Homo sapiens: one gene and its partners. The protein of the gene in region 1 interacts with the protein of each later gene in a biochemical or structural test. Each region holds a gene or a part of one and is shown on either strand. Other genes may lie near its edges.

What was found.
Region 2: the proteins of PDLIM1 (region 1) and JAM2 interact in a test that uses a peptide from one of them, tested with the Homo sapiens proteins (one large-scale study listed by IntAct).
Region 3: the proteins of PDLIM1 (region 1) and TMEM225B interact in a test that uses a peptide from one of them, tested with the Homo sapiens proteins (one large-scale study listed by IntAct).
Region 4: the proteins of PDLIM1 (region 1) and MUC3A interact in a test that uses a peptide from one of them, tested with the Homo sapiens proteins (one large-scale study listed by IntAct).
Region 5: the proteins of PDLIM1 (region 1) and TYRO3 interact in a test that uses a peptide from one of them, tested with the Homo sapiens proteins (one large-scale study listed by IntAct).
Region 6: the proteins of PDLIM1 (region 1) and SLC2A7 interact in a test that uses a peptide from one of them, tested with the Homo sapiens proteins (one large-scale study listed by IntAct).
Region 7: the proteins of PDLIM1 (region 1) and SLCO1B1 interact in a test that uses a peptide from one of them, tested with the Homo sapiens proteins (one large-scale study listed by IntAct).

The regions. Positions count from the first base shown.
Region 1 is NC_000010.11:95,260,004-95,263,503, forward strand, and holds part of PDLIM1 (PDZ and LIM domain protein 1), read right to left. Parts: intron 1-3,500. UniProt on the Homo sapiens protein: Cytoskeletal protein that may act as an adapter that brings other proteins (like kinases) to the cytoskeleton. Involved in assembly, disassembly and directioning of stress fibers in fibroblasts.
Region 2 is NC_000021.9:25,712,258-25,715,159, forward strand, and holds part of JAM2 (junctional adhesion molecule B isoform 1 precursor), read left to right. Parts: intron 1-82; coding exon 83-125; intron 126-1,973; coding exon of another isoform or gene 1,974-2,048; exon of another isoform or gene 2,049-2,317; intron 2,318-2,382; coding exon 2,383-2,415; 3' UTR 2,416-2,902. UniProt on the Homo sapiens protein: Junctional adhesion protein that mediates heterotypic cell-cell interactions with its cognate receptor JAM3 to regulate different cellular processes. Plays a role in homing and mobilization of hematopoietic stem and progenitor cells within the bone marrow.
Region 3 is NC_000007.14:99,604,767-99,608,266, reverse strand, and holds part of TMEM225B (transmembrane protein 225B), read right to left. Parts: intron 1,520-3,500; coding exon 1,373-1,519; intron 595-1,372; coding exon 457-594; intron 1-456.
Region 4 is NC_000007.14:100,948,276-100,952,333, forward strand, and holds the start of MUC3A (mucin-3A precursor), read left to right. Parts: upstream 1-1,258; 5' UTR 1,259-1,349; coding exon 1,350-1,410; intron 1,411-3,565; coding exon 3,566-4,058.
Region 5 is NC_000015.10:41,565,712-41,569,211, reverse strand, and holds part of TYRO3 (tyrosine-protein kinase receptor TYRO3 isoform 1 precursor), read right to left. Parts: intron 1,853-3,500; coding exon 1,675-1,852; intron 996-1,674; coding exon 850-995; intron 335-849; coding exon 190-334; intron 1-189. UniProt on the Homo sapiens protein: Receptor tyrosine kinase that transduces signals from the extracellular matrix into the cytoplasm by binding to several ligands including TULP1 or GAS6. Regulates many physiological processes including cell survival, migration and differentiation.
Region 6 is NC_000001.11:9,002,473-9,005,948, reverse strand, and holds the end of SLC2A7 (solute carrier family 2, facilitated glucose transporter member 7), read left to right. Parts: intron 1-1,069; coding exon 1,070-1,197; intron 1,198-2,430; coding exon 2,431-2,649; 3' UTR 2,650-2,976; downstream 2,977-3,476. UniProt on the Homo sapiens protein: Probable sugar transporter. Even if its physiological substrate is subject to discussion, it is able to transport glucose and fructose. Does not transport galactose, 2-deoxy-d-glucose and xylose.
Region 7 is NC_000012.12:21,129,704-21,133,993, forward strand, and holds the start of SLCO1B1 (solute carrier organic anion transporter family member 1B1), read left to right. Parts: upstream 1-1,490; 5' UTR 1,491-1,533; intron 1,534-4,290. UniProt on the Homo sapiens protein: Mediates the Na(+)-independent uptake of organic anions.

The DNA of each region.
Region 1 (3,500 bases):
TTTGTCTATGTGCTTCCACACTTCTGTAGCCCCCAGTTCTCAGAAGTGATGGGGATGGAGTTCCTCATGGAAACTAAAGTTAGCAATAATTAGCATTTAGTGAGCACCTACCAGGGGCCAGGCACTGTGCTGAGTGCTCTGTGCACATCCCATTGCATTGTCTCAACAACCTGGTGGTAAAGAAGTTAGTATTATTTCCACCTTAGATCTCAGGAGACTGAGTTTCAGAGATGTTACATGGTTTTCCCAAGGTCACACAGCTAGTAAGAGGCAGAGCTGGAATTCAAGGCTCAGGCCCCTCTATCTACCAAGCCTTTAGGAAGTATCAGGCAGTATCATATAAACAATGAAATCTGGGCTCTGAATTTTCTGATTTTGACCAGGGTCCCCTCAACTCAATTAAAAGAGAACAGAGGAAAGGTGCTAGCTTTCTGCTGAACTGACATTTTCTTCGCCCACCTGGTACACAGTAGGCACTCAATAAATGATTATGCTGAACTGACCTAGAGGAAAAAGGCCACTGAGGACCTCCCCCTCCACTGTGTGCACTGGGAGGAAGGGCAGCAGAGAAACCCCCTCACCTGCCTTACCAGTTGGCAAGGCTATCTCTGTTCTTATCTGACTGGGACACAGCTCTGTAAAGACCTACAAGACAGATAGCAACAGACACACCACAATACTTTCAAGTGCATAGGACAAAGAAATCCAGGGCAAGCCCCAGAGAATGGGTGATGACCTCAGATGCAAAGTATGTAGTGAGCCAATTCTGGAACTTCAGCGAATTTCACAGACTAAACAGTGGGAGGGAGCGAGCACTTGGGACTTGTGCTGACTGAGCAAGCAAAGTTACCAGGTGACTGCTGGGCTCACAGGAGAATCTTTCTTTGTGGGAATGCACTAGAAATACACCAGCAAGCTGAGATCCCCCCATACAAGCAGCATGGCCAGTTAGGCAGCTCCTCTGCCTTAGGCTGTTGGTTTTCCCACTGTTTCTGGGTTCAGCCTCAAAGAGTGCGGGGTGGAACAGAAACAGGACCCTCTCTGCTGAGAAAATCTGCAAAGAGACAAATTTTGATACTCGGCAACTACTGCAGCCAAAGAGTCTGGGCCAGGGGCTAGAGGAAAGGCTTAAACAGCCACCTGGTAGTTTCAGACTCAGAGGAGGGAGCAGGCAGGGAACATGAGAGAAGAGAGACATTAATGAAGGAAAAATAGCCAAGGCCATACTAAAAATATTTCCCAGGCACATATTTCTCCCAATGCATAGCAGCTCTTTCAATTAAGGATGTGTCATTTCCTGGGTTACTAAGTCCAGATCATGGAATATTCCACTCTGGGACAGTAAAAGAGGGTCATGTTCTCAGCCTCCCCAGCACCAAAGCAGCTAAAAACAGGGATCACAGGCCCCCAGTGTTTCCACCACTCCTGAGCTGCTTGGAAGCTTCCTCTCAGGGTGTGTCTGTGGAAAGCCTAGGGGGACCAGTATGACACCGTTTCTCAGGTATCTCAAATGTCCCCACAGTCGCCTGGAAGAGAATCATCATCTCAAGCCAGTAAGCCCTTGCAAGAACCAGAATTTGAGGGAAGAAGAAACATTGGTGGAGACTGCCTTGGTTACTATGATAAATGGCCAGTAACCTTTAACATCTTCTAAAGCCAAAGTCACACAGAAAAAAGTCTGCCCTACCAGACTCAAAGAAATGTTAAAAGAAATCTTAGTGTCAGCTGGGCGCAGTGGCTCACGTCTGTAAGCCCAGCACTTTGGGAGGCCGAGGCAGGCAGATCACCTGAGGTCGGGAGTTTGAGACCAGCCTGATCAACATGGAGAAACCCCATCTATACTAAAAACACAAAATTATCCGGGCGTGGTGGCGCATGCCTGTAATCCCAGCTACTCGGGAGGCTGATGCAGAAGAATCGCTTGAACCCGGGAGGCGGAGGTTGTGGTGAGCAGAGATCACTCCATTGCACTCTAGCCTAGGCAACAAGAGTGAAACTCCGTCTCAAAAAAAAAAAAAAAGAAAGAAAGAAATCTTAGTGTCCTCTCAGTGTCAGGCACAGGGAACAGGGATGCACATGTCATGGGTGTCCAATGACATCTGTCTCTCTCTGGGGAGGGGAGGGGTGACTATATGCAAGGAATGCCCAAGGAGCCCTTGAGAGGTGTTGCTACAACAGCCCTTTCCAAACATTTAAGTAGTTTGGAACCTCTAGTATCTTAACCTCTCTCAACCTGCATTTGAAGCCATTGGTTTGCAATTTAATTACCCTAAGAGTTGAGCAGGTTCTTGTTAAAGGTGAATTGGGGAGAAACTGAATGGCAAAGCGGGCTTCAGAGGCAATACAAAAATTGATGATTCCAAGTGAGAAAGGTTCTCAGAGCTAAGGCAAGTTTGGACCACACAGTGTTTTCCAACAAAATTTAAATGTCACCAATAATTAAAAATCAGGAGATTTCCGAAAAAAAGAGGCTTTCCAACTTCTGTTTTAATGGAAATAATTAGCAGAAATGAGACCTGCATGAGGCACGTGGCTGGAGCCAAGGAGCAGCGTCCCCTCCGGACCAGGAATGCACGCTCCAGCTGCCACCCCCACCCCCACCCAGCACCCTTGTTTACTCAGAGCTCTGCCTCAGTTCCTCATCCTGCCTGCCACTTTTGGGTATTTGAGTGGGCAATTCCTAACCTAGTCCACCCACTTTACACCTACAGAGAATTGGCCCCATCTTTAACCCATCCTCAAACCCAGTTCCTTTGCTGGGATTCCCAGTGTTTCTGGATTCATCCTCAAAGAGCCTGAGATGGAGCAGACACTGGGCCCCTCTGCTGGCAAGATCCAGGAGACTCCAATAAAGACTCAAAGGGCTTGGTGGCTCATGCCTGTAATCCCGGAAATTTGGGAGTCTGAGGTGGGAGGATCACTTGGGCCCAGGAGTTCGAGACCAGCCTGGGCAACACAGTGAGACCCCAATCTCTACAAAAAAAAGTAAAACTTAGCCAAGTGTGGTGGCACACACCTGTAGTACCAGCTACTCAGGAGGCTGAGGTGGGAGGATCACTTGAACCCAGGAGGTCGAGGCTGCAGTGAGCTGTGATCAAACCACTGTACTCCAGCCTGGGTGACAGAGCGAAAGCTTGTCTCAAAAAAAAAAAAAAAAGACTCAAAGGCAGCTGCAGCCAGATGATCTGTGACAGAAGAGGACATGCCTCCTCAGTCCCCAGCAAGGCACTTCCTCAGACACCTCTCCCCTTTCCACCTGCAGCCCTACCTCTCCCCCAGTTAAGCCTGCCTCTGTCCCCAGATCAGAACCTATTCCTAGGACAAGCATTTATATCCTCAGGGACCTCTCTTCTTTCATGACCTCTGGTCCACTCTAGGGAAAAAGCAAACACTGCTTCACCAAAACTATGCAGCATGAAGTATTTCTCCCTTGCTTAGTTCAGATGGTGGACATAAGCACAGGCTACTCTAGATTCCCTCAAACACTCCCCGACTAATAA
Region 2 (2,902 bases), on another chromosome or scaffold:
GTAAAATTAACTAAAAGAGCATATATGTTCCAGATTGGAAGTGATAATGTAGTAAATATTGTCTTTTATATTCCACAAACAGGAAGAGTAATTCTTCATCTAAAGCCACGACAATGAGTGAAAATGTGAGTATCTTTAAAGCATATTTATAGAATGAATATGTTTGGGGAATAGGGCAGGGAAATGAAGTAATTATATGGACTTTGTGAATTTTCACTTTTAATACACTTTGCACCAGTGTCTATCACTGGTGTTTAAAAGGAGCTAAGTAGATGTTAGCTTCTGTACCCTGTCTAGGATGGCATGATAAAGATACCTGGCATTTCCAATAGCAGAAGTGATCTTTAATCATATCATTATTTGTTTCATGGTATTTTCTATAATTAGTCTGCCTTCTTAGTATCACTAGGTCTGGCATTATCAGCTCCCTTTGACAGATGAGTAAATTAAAACACAGGTTCTTACAGGGTAACAGTGGTGGAGCTGGGACCCAGGCTCTTTTCTTCCCTGTAGCTTGACCAAGCAGAGTGGTTCCAGCAGAGCTGTGGTTCTAGGACTCACCTTTGGTTATGTGAAGCACTTGGAACATTTTAGGGCTATGCAATGTCTTAGTCATTTGGGCTGCTATAACAAAAATACCATACACTGGGTAATTTACAAACAACAAATTTATTTTCAGTTTTGGAGGCCAGGAAGTCCACAATCAAGGCACCAGTAGACTCAATGTCTAGTGAGAGCCTGTTCCTCATAGATGGAGACTTCCTGCTGTGTCCTCACATAGTAGCAGGGGCAAAACAAGCACCCTCTGGCCTCTTTGGTACGGGCACTAGCTCCATTCATGAAGGTCCTGCCCTCATCACCTAATCACCTCCTAAAGGCCCCACCTCTTAATAGTATTGCATTAGGGATTAGGTTTCAACATATGAATTTTGGGTGACACAAACATTCAGACCAGAGCACAGAATATCCTGTTATAATTGAAAGGAACATTTCAGAAATGTTTGAAAAGACGCAGTAATTACCTAACTCAGAGGTTTTAAGGAACATAATTTAGACACTTGGACCCTTTGTAAACACTACATTGATGCAGCAAATACCATTGTTACTCAGATTTTGTAGCTCTTTGGATGGATATTCAGCCTTCTGGATGATTTTCTCAGGAATATAGTGGGTTGGGGCAGGGGGAGTTCCTATGGTTTTAGAGGCCTAAGTCGTTTCTTGAGAAACAAAGCATGGGTTCTCAGAAATGCTTTACTCATCTATGGCAGGAATTCTGTCAGATTTCTTCTCAGTAGAGTCTGGGGGGTGGGGTGGGGCGGGGGAGCCTGGACATCAGTATTTTAAATGCTTACCCACTTTTCTGTAAAAATTTGATTTTCAAAAACTGTTCCAGAAACTATTACAGAATTCACCTTATTTTGTGGTTTACTACACTGAAAGCTTACTGATGTTTAATTAGGGGACAAGAAACTTTGTTCCCACCATTTTTGTGCCTACAATTTATGGAAAGTCTTTGTTTCTGCAATTTACAGAAAGTACTCTTGGAGTGTGGAATCGAATACTCCCATCCCTCCAAACAGTATGAAGCACATTGTGGCTAAACTGAATGAACAAAAGCCATTTATTTTTTCTTTGCCTTCCTCTCAGTTGCCCTTATCAACTAACAGCTAGAGTCCCCTTCAGTTCTCTTGTGCCCTACCACAGGGTTTCTCAACCTCAGCACTACTGATATTTTGGGCCACATCATTCTTTGGTGTAAGGTGCTGTCCTGTACATCATAGGATGTGTAGCCACAGGCCTGGCCTCCAACACCAGATGCCGGGGCATCCTCCTAACAGGATTTGTCTGCCTCTGCCTTCCAGTCCTACCTCTTTACTCTCTAGGCAAAGCTTCAGAGTACCTTGTCTGCTAGGAGTTAGTTAGTTAATTCCCCATAAAACAAGTTTAATTAAATATATACTGGTTTTGGCCAGGTGCAGTGGCTCACGCCTGTAATCCCAGCACTTTGGAAGGCCGCGGCGGGCGGATCACGAGGTCAGGAGTTCTAGACCAGTCTGGCCAATATGGTGAAACCCCATCTCTACTAAAATACAAAAATTAGCTGGGCATGGTGGCATGTGCCTGCAGTTCCAGCTGCTTGGGAGACAGGAGAATCACTTGAACCCGGGAGGCGGAGGTTGCAGTGAGCTGAGATCACGCCACTGCAGTCCAGCCTGGGTAACAGAGCAAGATTCCATCTCAAAAAATAAAATAAATAAATAAATAAATACTGGTTTTTACCTGTAGAATTCTTACAATAAATATAGCTTGATATTCATAAGATTTATGTTTCTTTAAATATGAATTCATATATTTAAACCTGTTTTTTCTTTCTTTTCCTAGGATTTCAAGCACACAAAATCCTTTATAATTTAAAGACTCCACTTTAGAGATACACCAAAGCCACCGTTGTTACACAAGTTATTAAACTATTATAAAACTCTGCTTTGTCCGACATTTGCAAAGAGGTACACGAGGAAATGGAATTGGTATTTCATTTTAATTTTCATGACTACTAACTCACCTGAACTTGCTATTTTAAACAAATAGTTCTGTCGACACCTAAAATATAATCTGGCTTCTTGTGTCTGGACTAAGTTAAAAGAATTAAAATACTTTGTAATGTCCTGGGCTTTGGGAAATGTTAACCACGTCCTAACTTCTAGAGAACGTTACTAAAATATAACATACTGATTGTGAAGTCAATCCACAGGTCATGAAAATATAAATCAGACTCTGCACGAGAGTCTGATTTAGGGGGTCCAACAAATACTCTGACAGATGCAAAAGGAACCTCTGGTCTCATTTCTGCCAGAATCCTCTTTTCTCCCCTAATATCATCCTTATTCTGATGCTCGTTCAT
Region 3 (3,500 bases), on another chromosome or scaffold:
TATTTTATTTTAGAGATGGAGTTTTGCTCTGTCACCCAGGCTGGAGTGCAGTGATGTGATCTCGGCTCACTGCAACCTCTGCCTCCTGGGTTCAAGCGATTCTCCTGCCTCAACCTCCCGAGTAGCTGGGATTGCAGACATGTGCCATCACGCCCAGCTAATTTTTGTATTTTTAGTAGAGATGGGGTTTCACCATGTTGGCCAGGCTGGTCTCAAACTCCTGGCCTCAAGTGATCCACCCATCTCGGCCTCCCGAAGCACTGGAATTACAGGTGTGAACCACCACATCTGGCCAATAACTATTTTAATTAACGAAAGTTAAATAGCCACGTCTAACTGGCAGCTGCGGTTTGGAACAGTGCAATTCTAGAGAATCCAAAGGGAGGGCCTCCACAAGACAGGTTCCTAAATCCAGACCGAGGACAAGAAGCAGGGCACTGTTCCCTGGACACTCACCAGCCACTATGAACAGAAAGATGCCGAAGCCCAGCACGTAGTAAGGCCACAGCACGGAGAACTGCAGGGGGCCGAGCTTCATCCTCAGAGCCTTGATCTCCAGGGCATGCAGCACCAAAGCCAGGAAGGCACAGGCCCCTGGAGGGTCACAGGGAGACACCCTCGGTCTCCTCCCATGCTACCCGCCTTCCCTCCAAACTTCACCCCCTGTGGCTCCTGCCTGGAGGCTCCTTCATCCTTGCCCCCTCTCTGAAACAAAACTCCTACCCAGATGCCTGTCCCTCCCTCCTTTCTGACTCATCTTCAAAGCCCATGTGCTTTACCTTCCAGGGAACCATCATCAGAACTCCCTTTCCTAGCACCCTCTGCATCTGCCCTTAGCTCACCTCTGCACCTTAGCAGAGGGTGCAACACTTTGGATTAAATGCAATCCCATTTTCCTACTGCTCTACCTCCACCATTTGCCTAGGAGCCTCTCAGGGTGGAGCCTGGGTCACCCTTTATAAATGTCAAAAGGGGCCAGGTGCAGTGGTTCATGCCTGTAATCTCAGCAATTGGGAGGCTGAGGCAGGAGGACCGCTTGACACCAGGAGTTCAAGGCCAGCCTGGGCAACATAGCGAGATCCCCATCTCTACCAAAAAAAAAAATGTTTAAATTAGCCAGGAATGGTGGCACATGCCTAGAGTCCCATCTACTTGGGAGGCTGAGGTGGGAGGATCACTTTAGCCTGGGAGGTTAAGGCTGCAGTGAGCTATGATAGCACCACTGCACTCCAGCCTGGGTAACAGAGTGAGACCCTGTCCCTAAAAAGAAAAATTATGCCTCTTTTGACATCACAGAGACTGAGCACCCCTCTTTCTCTGGACTCCTCCCCAGGCCCTAGCGAAGGTCAGGGATCACCTAGCTGTTCCACACCTGTGAAGAAGCTGATGCAGGCTAACACAAAGTTTTGCTTCCAGGTCCTCGGGAAGAACTCGGATGCAAAGGGCATCATGATGAAGGTGGTGACGAAAGCCAAGAAAACTGCAGAGAGCAGGAAAACCCGGCCGAGGATGATGTAAACTGCAGGGGAGGGAGAAGTGGGGCTGAAGCTGGGAACCCTGACCCGGAAAGGTCAGAGTCCCTCAGAGCCTGGGCAGGGCTGGCCCCCGGAGCCTCCACCACCCTTAGATCCCAAAGCATGGCCTTGGGACCAAGGTTGTGACCATGCCACTTTGGCCCCAAGAATGCTTTGGCCCCACAATTTGATTCCCAATGGCATAGAAATATAGGAAAAAAAATTAAATTGACAATGTCAGACACTGAAATCACCAGTTCTTAATAAACATATTTTTTCTTTTTTTGAAACAGGGTCTCCCTCTATCGCCCCAGCTGGAGTGTGGTGGTGCAATCTCAGCTCACTGTAACTTCGACTTCACAGGCTCAAGCAATCCTCCTGCCTCAGCCTCCAGAGTAGCTGGGACCACAGGCATGTACCACCACACCTGGCTAATTTTTTTATTTTTATGTTTTGTAGAAACAGGGTCTTGCTCTGTCGCCCAAGCTAGAGTGCAGTGGCACCATCATAGCTCACTGCAGCCTCAACCTCCTGGGCTCCAGCGATCCTCCCATTTTGGCCTCTCAACGCGCTGGGATGACAGGCGTGAGCCACCGTGCCTGGCCTTAACAAATGTTATTATGGGAATTTGGTTGTACCAAACCATGTATCATCCACTAGGGGAAAATGGTGGTTTTAAAAAGCAACACAAAATCAAACTCTTGTGATAAAATTTGTTGCACATGCAAATGTGAAGAATCACACCTGTATTGGTTACCCTGAAGTAATTCGCCTGTGGAAAATCAAAACTTTGTGAGGTCAAAATGTTCTGAACGCTGAGGGAATCCCCACATCTTTATTTAATTTTCCTAGTTAATAGGAGTGAGACTGGGTGCAATGGTTCACGCCTGTAATCTCAACACTTTGGGAGGCTGACGTGGGAGGATTGCCTGAGGCCAGGAGTTGGAGACCAGCCTGGGCCACATAGTAAGACCCCATCTCTACAAGAAATTTTAAAAAGTTGGGCACGGTGGGGCACACCTGTAGTCCCCGCTACTTGGGAGGCTGAGGCAGGAGGATCACTTGAGCTGAGGAGATGGAGGCTGCAGTGAGCTATGATCACACCAGCCTGGGCAACAGAGCGAGATCCTGTTTTTACAAAACCTAAAATTAAAAAATTAGCTGGGAGCTGTGGTGCGCACCTGTAGTCCCAACTACTCAGGAGGCTAAGGTGGGAGGATCGCTTGAACTCAAGAGTTGGAGGCTGCAGTGAGCTGTGATCACACCAGCCTGGGTGACAAAGCGAGATCCTGTTTTTTACAAAACATAAAATTAAAAAATTAGCTGGGAGCTATGGTGAGCACAGGTAGTCCCAACTACTCAGAAGGCTGAGGCGGGAGGATCGCTTGAACTCAGGAGTTGGAGGCTGCAGTGAGCCATGATCACGCCACTGCACTTCAGCCTGGGCAACAGAGTGAGTCCCCATCTGTAAAAGCAACAACAATAACAGAAGTAGTGAAATAGACCAAAATTAGCAGAGCCAGAGTCTGATAACAGGGTGATTTGTTCTCTGACTGCTGGCATGATGCAGACCCATGTGAAAATGAGTTTGCATACCCTCCTGAGCTGGCAGAGGTGGGCAGCTGGCAGTGGGATAAGGAGTCAAAGTTGCTGTTGAAGCCCCAGATATCCCAGAGTCTACCCTTGGGTTAACCAAGCCTGGTTAATTTTTTGTGTTTTGTTGTTGTTGTTGTTGTTGTTGTTGTTGTTGTTGTTTTGAGACAGGGCCTCACTCTCACTCCCAGGCTGGAATGCAGTGGCATGATCACAGCTCACTGCAGCCTCGAACTTCTGGGCTCAAGCAGGAGCCCTCCAACCTCAGCCTTTTGAGTAGCTGGGACTACAGGCACATGCCACCATGCTCAGCTAATTTTCTCATTTTTGTAGCAACAGGGTTTGGCTATGTTGCCCAGGCTGGTCTTGAACTCCTGGCCTCAAGCAATCCTC
Region 4 (4,058 bases), on another chromosome or scaffold:
TAAAATTTTAATAGATGCCACCAAATTACCCCTTTAAAGCAACCCAACCCACCTACACACCCACCAGCTGGATAAGAACATTTGTTTTACTTTATCTTGTTTTTGAAATGAAGTGTCGCTCTGTTGCCCAGGCTGGAGTGCAGAGGCACGATCTCAGCTCATTGCAACCTCTGCCTCTGGGGTTCAAGCAATTCTCCTGCCTCAGCCTCCCAAGTAGGTGGGATTACAGGTGCCCACCCCACGCCAGGCTAATTTTTGTATTTTTAGTAGAGATGGGGTTTCACTATGTTGGCCAGTCTAGTCTCGAACCCCTGACCTCAAGTGATCCTCAAATTACTCTTTTAAAACAACCCAACCCACCTACACATCCACCAGCTGGGTAAGAACGTTTATTCTTCACACCTTTGCCCAAACTGGATAGGTCAAACAATGTGCTGGGTCCAAACCAGTTTTTTTTTTTTTTTTTTTTTTTTGAGATGGAGTCTCGCTCTGTTGCTCAGGCTGGAGTGTAGTGGTGTGCTCTTGGCTCACTGCACCCTCCACCTTCTGGTTTCAAGCGATTTTTCTGCCTCAGCCTATTAGTAGAGATGGGGTTTTGCCATTTTGCCCAGGCTGGTCTCGAACTCGTGACCTCAAGTGATCCACACCCCTCAGCCTTGCAAAGTGCTGGGAATACAGGCGTGAGCCACCGCGCCGGGCCCAGACTAGTATTTTTGAGTGTTTCCTTTGGTCATCCATGTTTCCTTTTCTGGGACCTAGCCCCAACTCTTCAGATAATAAAATGACTTCAGATGGAATTCTGTGTTAATTACTCCCACGGTTTTTTCTGGCCTATGGGGTCCTGCGGGGGACAGGATGGAGCAGGGGCAGACTGAGGGACAGAAGGGGCTTGAAGGAGAGCGAGGTGCCACTGTCTCCCCAGCAGGAGGAATTGAAACTCAGGAGAGGCTGCAGGAGTAGGACCAGACTCCAGAGTCCAAGCCCTCGGTCAAGGGTACCCTCCACGGGTGTCGGGGAGGAAGGGCAGCTTCCAGGCAGTTCCATGTGGGCCAGGCAGGCTGTGGGGCTGAGCCAATAGCAGCTCTTCCTGCCTGACACTTCCTGGACTTGTCCTATCTTTTTCCCCCGTGTCCCGCTTCCCACAGCGCTGACGTCTGTCTGTCCGGGTGCAGGGAGAAGGGAGGAAGAGGGGAGAGGTGGGGCGGTGCAAAGGTGAGGCTGTGCTCAGCCCTGACGCTCAGCAAAACCGATAACCAGCACTTTCATTACGTGCACGCCCCAGGGCCACGTCCCTGCCGCTGTCTTGGTCCTGAAGCCTGTTCTGCCCCAGCCCCCTGCCCGCTGGGCCCATGCAGCTGTTGGGGCTCCTCGGCCTCCTCTGGATGCTCAAGGCCTCCCCGTGGGCCACAGGTAAGGGGGAGAGGCGGAAGGGGGTTGGAGAAAAGCTCCTGATGTGATGTTCCAGGAAAGGGGAGGGAAAAGTGGCTGTAAGGCCTGGGGAGGGGGGATAAGAAGGCACCGCTTGGGGCTCTGGGTGCAGGGAGAACCGAGGCACGGCCTGACTGGGGGAGGGGGCGGTGAGGAGAGGTTTCTTCCAGAGCTCCAGGTGCAGGGAAAACCGAGGTTGGGAAAGAGTGAGGGAGCTGGGTCTCTGCCACTCTCCACCAAGCACTGAGCAGGTTGCAGCGGCTGAGCCCCAATCTGTATCTGCAGCTGGAGGGTAGAGGGTGGGATTTACGTCTTCCCAGAGCAGTGCCCTTCCTGTCTTGACTCCTTCTGTCACCTGCCTCACGCCCCCAGCTTGAGTGTCCCCTTCACACTGGCCTCTCCCTCCCTGACAGCCCTCTAACTTCTACCCCTGGTCTCGGTCCTCTGGTTTCAGCCTCTCTGCCTTTTGTCCCCCGGCGGCTCCTCCCCAGCTCTGCCGTCACTCTCTTACCCCGGCCAGGGCCCATGTGTCTGGGTACAGCTGTTGGTACCAGGGCCGGGGCAGGGAGCTCCTGATGTCCACTTCGCTTCCAAGGGTGCGTCTGAGACTACCCGTCGTGGGGTCCCAGGCTTCTCTCTTCTGCCCTGCAGGAACACCTCGCAATTCCTCTATACTTCTCTTTTCTCTGTACTTCAGTGTCTGCTTCTGATCCCCGATCCCAGGCCACCCAGCCTACAGGCCCATGAGTCCCCTTCTCAGTCACCTCCAGGGCCACATCCTGGAGCCAAGGGCTGTAGCCTGGGGATTCTCATAATCCCTGACCCCACTTCCCTGGCACCCACGAGCTAGGTTGAGACGTGACACCCCAGCTCTCAGCCACAAGATGGGCTGTGCCCGAGGTGAGGGGTAGCAGGTCGGGTACCTCCCACTTCCCATCTGCTGTGGCTGCCTGTCTTCCTTGTCCCTGACACCCCCGACAGCCGGATCTCTGATCCTAACTCTGACAAATTGTGAAATGGGTTGAAATCCACATGCTGGGGTTCATGCTTGTAAACTAATGAATCCCACGGCCAAAAGGGAATAGTATAGAAAAATATGTCTATTTGTGTGATGAACACTCACTGCTAAGCCTTAAGGTCTCCAGAACTCATCACGCCTGACTGCTGAGGTAGCTCCTTCTGGAAGTTTCCTTTTCTATGCTGTCTCTCTGCCTCTTCACCTAGTCCTCACTCCATGCCCTTTGAAGTCATTAGTGTGTGAGCTTAGCCTGTTTCTCTTTGGTGTTCTCTGGGCAGTTTTTTGTTTTTGTTTTTGTTTTTGTTTTTGATGGAGTCTTGCTCTGTCACCCAGGCTGGAGTGCAGTGGCACCATCTCAGCTCACTGCAGCCTCTGCTTCCTGGGTTCAAGCGATTCTCCTGCCTCAGCTACAGGTACACGCCACTACGCCTGGCTAATTTTTGTATTTTGTTTTAGTAGAGAAAGGGTTTCACCATGTTGGTCAGACTGGTCTCGAACTCCTGACCTCAAGTGATCTCCTGCCTTGGCCTTTCAAAGTGCTGGGATTACAGGCATGAGCCACCGTGCCTGGCCCTCTTTGTTCAGCTTTCCCTGTCTCCTGGTTTTTGTGATGCGCCCCCTGCCAGGACATGGCTGGGTTCTCTCTTTTTCTCTTTGAAAGCGGAGTCAGCCCAGACAGCAGCAGGGTGCCGGGAGAAGCAGTGGTGGGAGCAGAAGGTTAATGGGGGGATGGGAGCACTCCAGGCAGTAGCAGGGGGAGGAGAGGAAGGGGCAGAGGGAGGAGGAGCCTGGGTGTGACCAGAGGAGGGAAGGGAGGGGAGGGAGGCTCTGCCCAGCTCGGCTATATCAGGACAGGAGGACCTGCCATGACAAGGCCAAGGCCCGGTGAGGAATGAGGGCTCCCATGCCCCACTGCTCCCCTAGGAGCAGACAGGCAGTCGTCTCCAGCACCACAAAGCACCCAGCTCCAAGCTGCCTCTGATGCAGGAGTCAGCTGTAATATGCCCTGCCCTCTGTGATGCTGCCTGGAAAATGGGTGAGTGAGTAGCTTACATGAGTGATGTAACAAAATGACCCACGGATTTACCAGTGGATTCCTCTGCTCTGCCGCCAATGCAGGAACTTTATCCACGGCCACATCCATCTCTCAAGTGCCTTTCCCCAGAGCAGAAGCAGCCAGCGCTGTGCTCAGCAATTCTCCACACTCCAGAGACCTGGCTGGGTGGCCACTTGGTGTCCCCCAGCTCGCCTCTCCTGCTCCTGGCCACAGGGAAAATGCACCTATGACACTCACTACCTCCCCCCATGACACACTCATCTCTGAAACATTGCTCAACTCTCCAGTCAGTTCCAACACCTCAACCACCCCGACGTCCAAGTTTGCCTTCAAGGTTGAAACCACTCCACCCACCGTGTTGGTCTATTCAGCCACCACTGAGTGCGTGTATCCAACGAGCTTTATAATCACCATCTCCCACCCCACCTCCATCTGTGTGACCACGACGCAGGTGGCCTTCACCAGCTCTTACACCTCGACTCCCGTGACACAGAAGCCAGTGACCACCGTCACCAGTACTTACTCTATGACCACTACTGAGAAAGGAACGTCAGC
Region 5 (3,500 bases), on another chromosome or scaffold:
TGTTGGGATTACAGGCATGAGCCACCATGCCCAGCCAAGATAGTTTAAACAGCCCTGGCCTCAACTTCTTCACTCTGTCTGTGGGTCTACTAGGAGGGGAGATGCTACTAGGCTCCTCCCATCAGTCTAGGTTGCCCTTGAAAACCTTGATCCCCTGAGCCTCTGCCCCTCTCCACCTACAAGCCTCACCTGCACGGTCATGAGAAGAGACCACCAGTGGCTGACTCCAGGGTCCACAGCCAACTGCATTGGAGACGCACACACGTACGATCAGGTCCTTTTGGGGATCCCAGCCTGTCAAATTGGCCCTGGTCCCCTCCACTGTCAGCTCATCCTGCAGCCAGGAAAAGCCCCCACCCCATAGTGAGCCTGGGGAGAAGGCCTCCAGCTGGGGCCTGAGGACAGAAAAAGGTCCAGCTGGGAACATGGGAGTATAGGGGCACTGTGGGTTCAGGGGCTGCAGGAACACAACCTTCTGGGAGTAATCACATTCCTGTTCCCGGCTGCAGGGGCCTCTCCAGAACACAAACAAGGCTCAGTCCCGGAATGCACAGGTGGGGGATGGGAGCGAACTGAGCTGGGGACAAAGCCTTATCTGTGCCCTCCCCCAGCTCAAGCAGGAATGTGCTTCCTGCTTTATTTACAAAGTGCACACAGGATGCAACCCTAACAGGAGACATAATCCTTTGAGAAGTGGAGCTTGCAGAGGAGGGTGAGGAGGAAAGGATTCCCTGGGGCTGCGGGAGACCCAGGCCCACCAAAGACAATCATTTTGAAATTCTTAAAGGCCTTAGAACCCTGAAGGCTTATACTCCAGGAGAGTGGAGAGAGGGGAGGGTTCTGTCTTACCTGGGTTCCATTGTCTTGAACCCAGGACAGTTTGTAGGGTCCCAGGGGGCCTTCCAAAGGGGCCTCGGGGATCACTTCTTCCCACTCCAAGATGAGGCCTGAATCTGTGCGGATGGCATGGAGGTTTTGGGGAGCGCTGGCTGGGGCTGCAGCCAAAGAGAGAAGATTGCTAAGACCCCTGCCCTTCCCACCATCATAATTCCATGCAGACCTTTGGAATCAACTCCCAAGAACTAAACAGCTCTGAGAGGCACAAACTGGGGAAGGGTTCACCTCCCAGCTCTGACTGCTCTCACCCACTGTGCTGGGGGAGGGGTAAGCAATGGGCAGGACAGGCAGCACCCCAGCTCGGCAGTGTTGCTCTTCATCACCATGGTTACTGCCTTTCTGCCTCACCCCTTACCACTCCCCTCTCACAGCTATGCCAGCCTCTTTGCAATTGCCAAGCAAGTTCCTGTCATAGGGTCTTTGCACTTGCTGTGCCTTCTTCCGGCAGTGATTTTCCCCCAGATATTTACATGGCTTCTTCTTTATCGTTCAGATCCCAGATCCTTCAGATCTTTATCCTTCAGACCTTTTTAGGGGGGGTTTCCTTAACCACCTGGGGACACTCTTTATCAACCACATTATCTGATCTTTTCCAGTTTGCTTATCTGTTCCACCTACAAGAACTACTTACAAGGTGGTATGTAGTTATATGCAGTAAATGTTTGCCGAATGATGCCTGAACCTCCATCTCTACCAGCACCATTCAGAACTCCAGCCAACACGGCCCCCTTCCCGGCTCCAGCCCTGCCCACCCGCTCTGCTCTATGCATCCCTTACCTAGACCCTTGGTCTGAAAGGGCACCCAGTCAGCATAGGGAGAGGGCCCCAAGGCATTGGCACAGCGCACCCTGAGGCTGTAGTTGGTGGCAGGCACCAGGTCCCGGAGCAGGCAGGTAAAGGGGGGCACAGGGACCACAACAGCCAGGACTTCCCAGCCTCCTGGGGCCTGTGTCACCTACAGAAAAGCAGAAAACTAATGATGTAGGGGAGAGCCTGTGAGAGATGGAAGATGGGATGGGTATAGTTATGGGTGCTTGAATGAATGCTTCCTCTATCAGCAAACACTTGCAACCCACGCCCTCCCATCTGCCCCCACCCCAATAATACACAGGGTTCCACATCTTCATACCTTTGCAAATGCTGTTCCTTTCACTTGGAATGACCTGCTCTTCCTAGCAAAGGCCTACTCATCCTTTAAGACTCAGTGCAAATATCACTTTCTTGGTGAAAGCCTTTCTCAACCACTCCAGAAAACTCTTGTCCTTTTGTACTTGGTACGAAACTCTTAGGGTATACTTACCACTTACTGTGCCTGTTTACATGCCACTCCAAAGTTCTAGAGCTTCTGAAGCTCAGAGAAAACTGGGAGCCTAGGGCACTATGAACCAGCCCTTCATCTTACATTTTGGGGGCCCAGGGCAAGAGTACAAAGAGATCCACGTACTATATGTCTAAATATTTAAACATTATAAATCAGCTAACAAACTATTAAATAGTTTCTCTCTTAATATTTTGACCAATAAACCTTCAAAACAACCTGGGAGATCAGGTTTGCATTTGTAACTCTCCAAATCCCTGGAGTCCCGAGTCAGAATGAGGAGGCACTGGAAGAGCTGGCCTGAAGCCAAGGTCTGCACCATGAGGGGCCTCATGTGCACAGGCGTGGACAATGCTGACTGCATATCCAAGCTCCATTCCCATCCCCCTCACGAATGGCTGCCCCTTGGGCTTAGAGGTGGTCATATCACACTGCGGTCCATCCTTGGGAAGATGGAACAGGGAAAAGGCCCACACAGACCCCAGAAGCAGACTCAGAACCATTAGGGCAAGAGATCCTGAATAGCTATAGTATAGTGTGGCAGTGAGGGGGTCCTTGCCATCTGGATGGGCATATCCTCTTGGCCCTGTAGGCTCTTTGCCCCGGGGAAAGGGGTGTGGCCAAAGGAGGGCCAGAGTAGGATCCTCTTTTTTTTTTTTTTTTTTTTTTTTTTTTTAATAGAGACAGGATCTTGCCCTGTCACTCACTCAGGCTGGAGTGCAGTGGCATGATCTCGGCTCACCGCAGGCTTGACTTCTCAGGCTCAAGTCATCCTCCCACTCTAGCCTCCTGAATAGTTAGAAGTACAGGCGCATGCCACTGTGCCTGGATAATTTTTGTATTTTTTGTAGAGAAAGGGTTTTGCCATGTTGCCCAGGCTGGTCTTGAACCCCCAGGCTCAAGCAATCCTCCCGTCTCCACCTCCCAAAGTGCTGGGATTACAGGCATAAGCCACTGTGCCCAACCTCAGTAGGGTTCTCTAAATGGTGGAGCCCAGAGCAGGGGCCCCTCCTGCCCAGGGGAACTGCCCAGAACAGTTTTGAAAGGTACTCATTAAATGGCCTTTGAGTAAACGGATGAAAATGAGCAAGCCTGCATTGCCTCTTGTTTTTAGTATCACCTTACACAGTTTTTCCACTCTCCAAGGCTTAGGGCCCCTTCTGGTCATCTTGTTCTCTTTGGCTTGAGTGGGGGTTGGGGGGTAAGGTGGAGCATGATAGGGTGAGTATCAGCAAAGGTTTGAGCTTTCACCTAAGTAAGAAAAACTCGTCTGGGTGTGCTGGTT
Region 6 (3,476 bases), on another chromosome or scaffold:
TGGGGTCAGGGCCCTGGAGAAGGGGCCCGGGCCCCAAGTCACTGGGCTGCAGGAGTTTGCACTTGACATCCCAGCTTCATTCAGGGGCTTTGAATTCTTCTCCATGTCCATCCAGAGAGGGAGATCGGTCCTTTTCTTTTTTTCCTTCTTTTTTTTTTTTTTTTTTTGAGTTGGAGTCTCACTCTGTTGCCCAGGCTGGAGCGCAACCTCCATCTCCCGAGTTCAACAGATTATCCTGCTTCAGCCTCCTGAGTAGCTGGGACTACAGGCACACGCCACCATGCCGGACTAATTTTTATATTTTTAGTAGAGATGGGGTTTCATCATGTTGGCCAGGCCGGTCTCGAACTCCTGACCTCCAGTGATCTGTGAGACCGGACCTTTTCAATGAGGCCATTTCACCACCTAAGCGGGGGTGGGAAGCTTGGAGGAGGAGGGACAGAATCTTCCTCTTTCTTTGTGTAAAGCTACAGATATCTATATATGCAGGACCTAAACAGACGCACAGTATTAAAATTTCATGGGAGTGGCGATTAGGGAACAAAAATGGCTTTAGACATTTTAGACAAGGCTTCTTAAGGAAGCGATAATGAAAAACAGTTGTCCAAGAAGGTGTAGCCCTCAGGCCCTGCCATACCCAGATCCGCCATAGGAGGGCGGCACTTCCCAAGCGCGGGCGGTCTCAAGTCAGAGTGACGCCAGCGCAAAGGAAGCTCTTTCAGAAAGCTCTGCTGCCTGTGAGCTGGAGCCCACTCACTCCTGCTGCTCCCACGAAGCTTCCCATCCATTTACTTTCTGCAAACCTTCATGGAGCGTCATTGGCCTTGAAGAAGCAGCAATGGAAATTCAATTCCAGGCTCTCCAACCAGACTTTGCAAAGTGGATCTTTGCAGCTCCTGCTCTGATCACGCCCTGGTTTTGTGGGTAAAGGCAGGGTTCCTTTCCAGTCCCCAATCCCAGCTGGTACTCTTGAGGGTCCTAGGTCAGAGGCTAGAGTGGGCCGCGTCCCGCCAGCCCTGGGGGACACCTGGGTCCTTCTCCGCCCCACCCATCCTGCTCTGCCCTCCAGGTCCTGTCCCCTCGGTGGTGAGGACCGAGATCTTCCTGCAGTCCTCCCGGCGGGCAGCTTTCATGGTGGACGGGGCAGTGCACTGGCTCACCAACTTCATCATAGGCTTCCTGTTCCCATCCATCCAGGTGAGTGAGGGCCCCTTCCCCAACCCGCTCCACCGGGCCTCCAGGGAGTAAGATGTATTCCCCTTCCGCTAAGCACATCTGTGAATCCAGCAAGGTGGGGACAGGCTCTCAGACACATCCAAGGGTCCACAGACACACGTGGCCCCACTGCCTGCAAACCCTTGAAGACACCGGTTTCTCAGTTACTGAAGGGTGATCCCCTGCTGACATTGTAAAGGGCTATTGCTTAGGGGCTCTGGTCCGCGGAGCTCAAAGGCGCCAGCAAACAAAGCCAGAGCCAGGGTGCAGATCCCCCACCGCTTCCTTCCTCTGTTCCGAAGACAAGATGGGCCACAAACTCTGCGCTCTCAGCACCTTCAGGGCACAGAGGCCATAAACCCCTACTGTCAAAAGGTTAAGCAGTCTTTTTTTTTTTTTTTTAGACAGGGCCTTGCTCTGTCACCCAGGCTGGAATGCAGTGGTGCAACCACAGCTCATAGCAGCCTTGACCTCCCAGGCTTAAGTGATCCTCCTACCTCAGCCTCCCAAGTCGCTGGGACCACAGGCATGGGCCACCACACATGGCTATTTATTTATTTATGTATTTTAGGGATGGGGTCTTGCTATATTGCCCAGGCTGGTCTCAAACTTCGAAAGTGCTGGGATTATAGGTGTGAGCCACAGCACCCAACCAGATTCTTTTTGATAATAGGGTGAGGGGGAATCCAATTTCTAGCTTTTTTTTTTTTTTTCCTGCAAACAATCTTTAGTGATCACAGTTTTCTAGCTATATCATTCCTCCAGGAGTGAAACAAAACTGGCTGCCAAGCAACTCCTTTATGGACTCACAAAGGCCTCGACCAGCATTGGTTATTTGTTGTTTGTTTTGGGGTTTTTGTTTTTGTTTTTGTTTTTTTGAGACAGTCACGCTCTGTTGCCCAGGCTGGAGTGCAGTAGCGCGATCTTGGCTCACTGCAACCTCTACCTCCTGGGTTCAAGCGATTCTCCTGCCTCAGACTCCCAAGTAGCTGGGATTACAGGTGTACACCACCATGCTCAGCTAATTTTTGTATTTTTAATAGAGACAGGGTTTCATCATGTTGGCCAGGTTGGTCTCAAACTCCTGACCTCAGGTGATCCACCTGTCTTGGCCTCCCAAAGTGCTGGGATTACAGGCATGAGCCAACGTGCTCAGCTGAATCAGCACTGTTGCCTTTCTCTGCCCCCTCCTGTCTTTCTCGTCTCCTGGTCTAGGAGGCCATCGGTGCCTACAGTTTCATCATCTTTGCCGGAATCTGCCTCCTCACTGCGATTTACATCTACGTGGTTATTCCGGAGACCAAGGGCAAAACATTTGTGGAGATAAACCGCATTTTTGCCAAGAGAAACAGGGTGAAGCTTCCAGAGGAGAAAGAAGAAACCATTGATGCTGGGCCTCCCACAGCCTCTCCTGCCAAGGAAACTTCCTTTTAGTGGCCCTGCATGAAGGACGGGAGCCCATATTCAAGGCTTCCTTCTATGACAATGGGCCTCCCGGCCCCAGGCTCTGGGGAGGATAATAGCACGGAGGCTTTTGTCGTTGCCCCCATTTAACTTAATTATGGATATTATTAAATACCCACAACAATGCATATTTAGCTGAGAAGTTCCAAGGCTAGCCATTGAGGAATGACCTGGAGGAAGGGGCCGGCACGTGAATTTTGATTGGTTAAGACTCGATTTTCCGATTCTACATTGGCACCAAAATTTAAATGATGTATAGATGCACTTTTTTAAAGTAAAACTTTTCAAGTTCCACAATTGCTATGGATACCCGAGCTGCCGTCATTGCATCAATTAAGGAGTCCAAGGCTCTGAATGCCATTGCCTTCCTGGCGACGTGGCTTCCTTTCTCCACCCCGTGGCTGCAGGTTGCACCGTGAATCCCAGCCTGCGTGCCCAGCTCTGTCCTGTCGATCACAGGGTGAAGGGGGCCAGCCCCTCGACACCTGTGGGTATTTCTCGTCAGGTGGGATGAGAGACTGAAAAAAGAAATAAGACACAGAGACAAAGTATAGAGAAAGAACAGTGGGCCCAGGGGACCGGCGCTCAGCATACGGAGGACCCTCACCAGTACTGGTCTCTGAGTTCCCTCAGTATTTATTGATCACTATCTCTACTGTCTTGGTGAGGGGGATGTGGCAGGACTATAGAGTAATGGTGGGGAGAGGGTCAGCAGGAAAACATGTGAGCAAAGGCTCTGTGTCATAAATAAGTTTAAGGAAAGGTGCTGTGCCTTGATGTGCACATAGGCCAGAGTT
Region 7 (4,290 bases), on another chromosome or scaffold:
CTTTGACCTCTGAAAATATTGGAGAATTTTACAACTGGCACCTTTAGCTCAGGATTATAAAGGTTGTTAGTTAGTTTGTACTGTTTTATCTTCATTGTATATAATATATATATTAGTCTCCAAACATGTTGATGTGTTTTCAATGAAATGGATGTCTGAGGAGAAAACCATTAGCCTGAGAAAACCCAAACTGTATTCCCATTGTGAATAAAAGGAAGTCCATAAAAATGATGGAAAATGTTCTGCATTCCTGTTATGATATCAAAATCTGGCAGTACATGAAAATTTTTCAAAGTGCTTATTTAACAGGCATAATCTTTGGTCTCCTGAGCCAGAATCTGCTGGGTATGGGACTGGATTGCTATTTTGACAACTCGCCAGTAGATTCTTACTCAGCAGAGTATTTGGAAGCCTTACTCTAATATTTTGGCCTTGGGTCTACATTTCTCAGTTCTGCACAGTCATTCTTCCCCTCTACACTACTCTTTAGTTTGTCTCATGATTCCAATACTCTCAATAATTAACCAAGAATAGAACTAATCAATCAGATAACTGTGGCACAGACATCAAATACATTTTGCTGCAACCATATCAACAAATGTCCCATGAATGATAAGGGGTAACCATATTCTCATATATGCATCCTCACATTACCACATATATATATGTGCATATGTGTATACAGGTAAAAGTGTGTATATATGTATACATGTATGTTTGTGTGTATATACATACATATATCTTCACACTTTTCTGAAATATATATATTTATGTGAGAGAAGGGTCTGTACTTTATTTCAGAAGAGAGCTTAATGTCCAAGGTATAATTGAGAGTCTAAAATGTTTGAGTTATTGAATTAATTAAACTTCATCTCTACTCAAGAAAACTTTTAACTGAGTTAAGCTCTTCCTTTCTCCACAAGTCAAGTCAATAAAAGGAAACTGTGATATTAATAATTCTTTCCTGTTTTGATGTAAAGAATCTATCGCATAAAGCAGTCTTAATTTTCATCATTCAGAAAAATGGTCTTGCAGTTAATTGGGACTCTCTTATTCCAGGTGGTATCTCCAGTCTCCATACATACCACGTTAGAACCATACTTATGTACCAAGCAAAGAGGGTATATTTTAATTTTTAAATGCCAATGTAACCTGTAGGCATATTTTTTATTTGTCTTAAATTATTTCCTATTTGGAAGTTTTAAATACCTGGAATAATTTATTGTACTCATATTTTTAAAGAAAAAAATCTTATGCCACCAACTTAATTGAATAAACAAGTAAAAGCCATTCCCAAAAGTAAGGTTTACTTGTTAAGATTAACAAAAAATAATGTGAGAATTCTGAGAAATATAATCTTTAAATATTGGCAACTGGAGTGAACTCTTAAAACTAACTAGGTTTTATATGTTTGACTAGAGCAATGACATAATAAGGTGGTTAATCATCACTGGACTTGTTTTCAAAAAGCCAACTACTTTAAGAGGAATAAAGGGTGGACTTGTTGCAGTTGCTGTAGGATTCTAAATCCAGGTAAGAACCATTGAGATTCTCTAATTTTTACATATATTTTATGTAAGAAATTTTCACGGAAGAAGATTTTGATGGTCTTGAAAAATATTACGAATTTTATGCTCTGTGTCTTCCACACGCTTACATTCTGAGCCCTTAAAACATAGTAAATATTCCTTCTGGGAGTAGAAGAGCCTCAGGTTTATATACTGTTAAAAATAAAGTAGAGAAAATAATACCTTTATATATTTAAATATAAAGTTTCAAATCTTGGTCTTATTAATTTCCAAACAAATAAAAATCAAGTCTCAAAAATGAAGCTCTAGTTACCTTCTTAAAATATGCTACAGGATAATTATTTTTGTCAACTACATTGACTGATCACACTAGACTCCTTATTTCTTTGATGTCTTCTTAACTGGATGAAGGCAGCCAAGGGTGGGAGTAGAGGGAAGAGTTAATTGGCAAACATAAAAAACAGGTGTCTCAAAGTCACATAACCACCTCAGTTTCCTTGTTTCAACTCAAGTTTGATACAGGGTGAAGGGAAATATATTTTCTAGATAATTTATCTCCAATTAAATAAGCAAAAAGTCTTCTCAGTACAGTTTTTTTCTTTTTTTATTTCATTATTATTATACTTTAAGTTTTAGGGTACATGTGCACAACATGCAGGTTTGTTACATATGTATACATGTGCCATGTTGGTGTGCTGCACCCATTAACTCATCATTTAACATTGGGCATATCTCCTAATGCTATCCCTCCCCTCTCCCCCACCCCACAACAGTCCCCGGTGTGTGATGTTCCCTTTCCTGTGTCCATGTGTTCTCATTGTTCAGTTCCCACCTATGAGTGAGAACATGCGGTGTTTGGTTTTTTGTCCTTGCGATAGTTTGTTGAGAATGATGGTTTCCAGTTTCATCCATGTCCCTACAAAGGACATAAACTCATCATTTTTATGGCTGCATAGTATTCCATGGTGTATGTGTGCCACATTTTCTTAATCCACTCTATCGTTGTTGGACATTTAGGTTGGTTCCAAGTCTTTGCTACTGTGAATAGTGCCGCTATAAACATACGTGTGCATGTGTCTTTATAGCAGCATGATTTATAATCCCTTGGGTATATATCCACTTATGGGATGGCTGGGTCAAATGGTATTTCCAGTTCTAGATCCCTGAGGAATCGCCACACTGTCTTCCACAATGGTTGAACTAGTTTACAGTCCCACCAACAGTGTAAAAGTGTTCCTATTTCTCCACATCCTCTCCAGCACCTGTTGTTTCCTGACTTTTTAATGATCGCTATTCTAACTGGTGTGAGATAGTATCTCATTGTGGTTTTGATTTGCATTTCTCTGATGGCCAGTGATGATGAGCATTTTTTCACGTGTTTTTTGGCTGCATAAATGTCTTCTGTTGAGAAGTGTCTGTTCATGTCCTTCACCCACTTCTTGATGGGGTCGTTTGTCTTTTGTAAATTTGTTTGAGTTCATTGTAGATTTTGGGTATTAGCCTTTTGTCAGATGAGTAGGTTGCAAAAATTTTCTCCCATTCTGTAGGTTGCCTGTTCACTCTGATGGTAGTTTCTTTTGCTGTGCAGAAGCTCTTTAGTTTAATTATATCTCATTTGTCATTTTTGGCTTTTGTTGCCATTGCTTTTGGTGTTTTAGACATGAAGTCCTTGCCCATGCCTATGTCCTGAATGGTATTGCCTAGGTTTTCTTCTAGGGTTTTTATGGTTTTAGGTCTAACATTTAAGTCTTTAATCCATCTTGAATTAATTTTTGTGTAAGGTGTAAGGAAGGGATCCAGTTTCAGCTTTCTACATATGGCTTGCCAGTTTTCCCAGCATCATTTATTAAATAGGGAATCCTTTCCCCATTGCTTGTTTTTCTCAGGTTTGTCAAAGATCAGATAGTTGTAGATATGCGGCACTATTTCTGAGGGCTCTGTTCTGTTCCATTGGTCTATATCTCTGTTTTGGTACCAGTACCATGCTGTTTTGGTTACTGTAGCCTTGTAGTATAGTTTGAAGTCAGGTAGGGTGATGCCTCCAGCTTTGTTCTTTTCGCTTAGGATTGACTTGGTATGCGGGCTCTTTTTTGGTTCCATATGAACTTTAAAGTAGTTTTTTCCAATTCTGTGAAGAAAGTCATTGGTAGCTTGATGGGGATGGCATTGAATCTATAAATTACCTTGGACAGTATGGCCATTTTCATGATATTGATTCTTCCTGCCCATGAGCATGGAATGTTCTTCTATTTGTTCGTATCCTCTTTTATTTCATTGAGCAGTGGTTTGTAGTTCTCCTTGAAGAGGTCCTTCACATCCCTTGTAAGTTGGATTCCTAGGTATTTTATTCTCTTTGAAGCAATTGTGAATGGGAGTTCACTCATGATTTGGCTCTCTGTTTGTCTGTTATTGGTGTATAAGAATGCTTGTGATTTTTATACATTGATTTTGTATTCTGAGACTTTGCTGAAGTTGCTTATCAACTTGAGGAAATTTTGGGCTGAGATGATGGGGTTTTCTAGATATACAATCATGTGATCTGCAAACAGGGACAATTTGACTTCCTCTTTTCCTAATTGAATACCCTTTATTTTCTTCTCCTGCCTGATTGCCCTGGCCAGAACTTCCAACATTATGTTGAATAGGAGCAGTGAGAGAGGGCATCCCTGTCTTGTGCCCGTTTTCAAAGGGAATGCTTCCAGTTTTTGCCCATTCAGTATCATATTGGCTGCAGGTTTGTCATAGATAGCTCTTATTATTT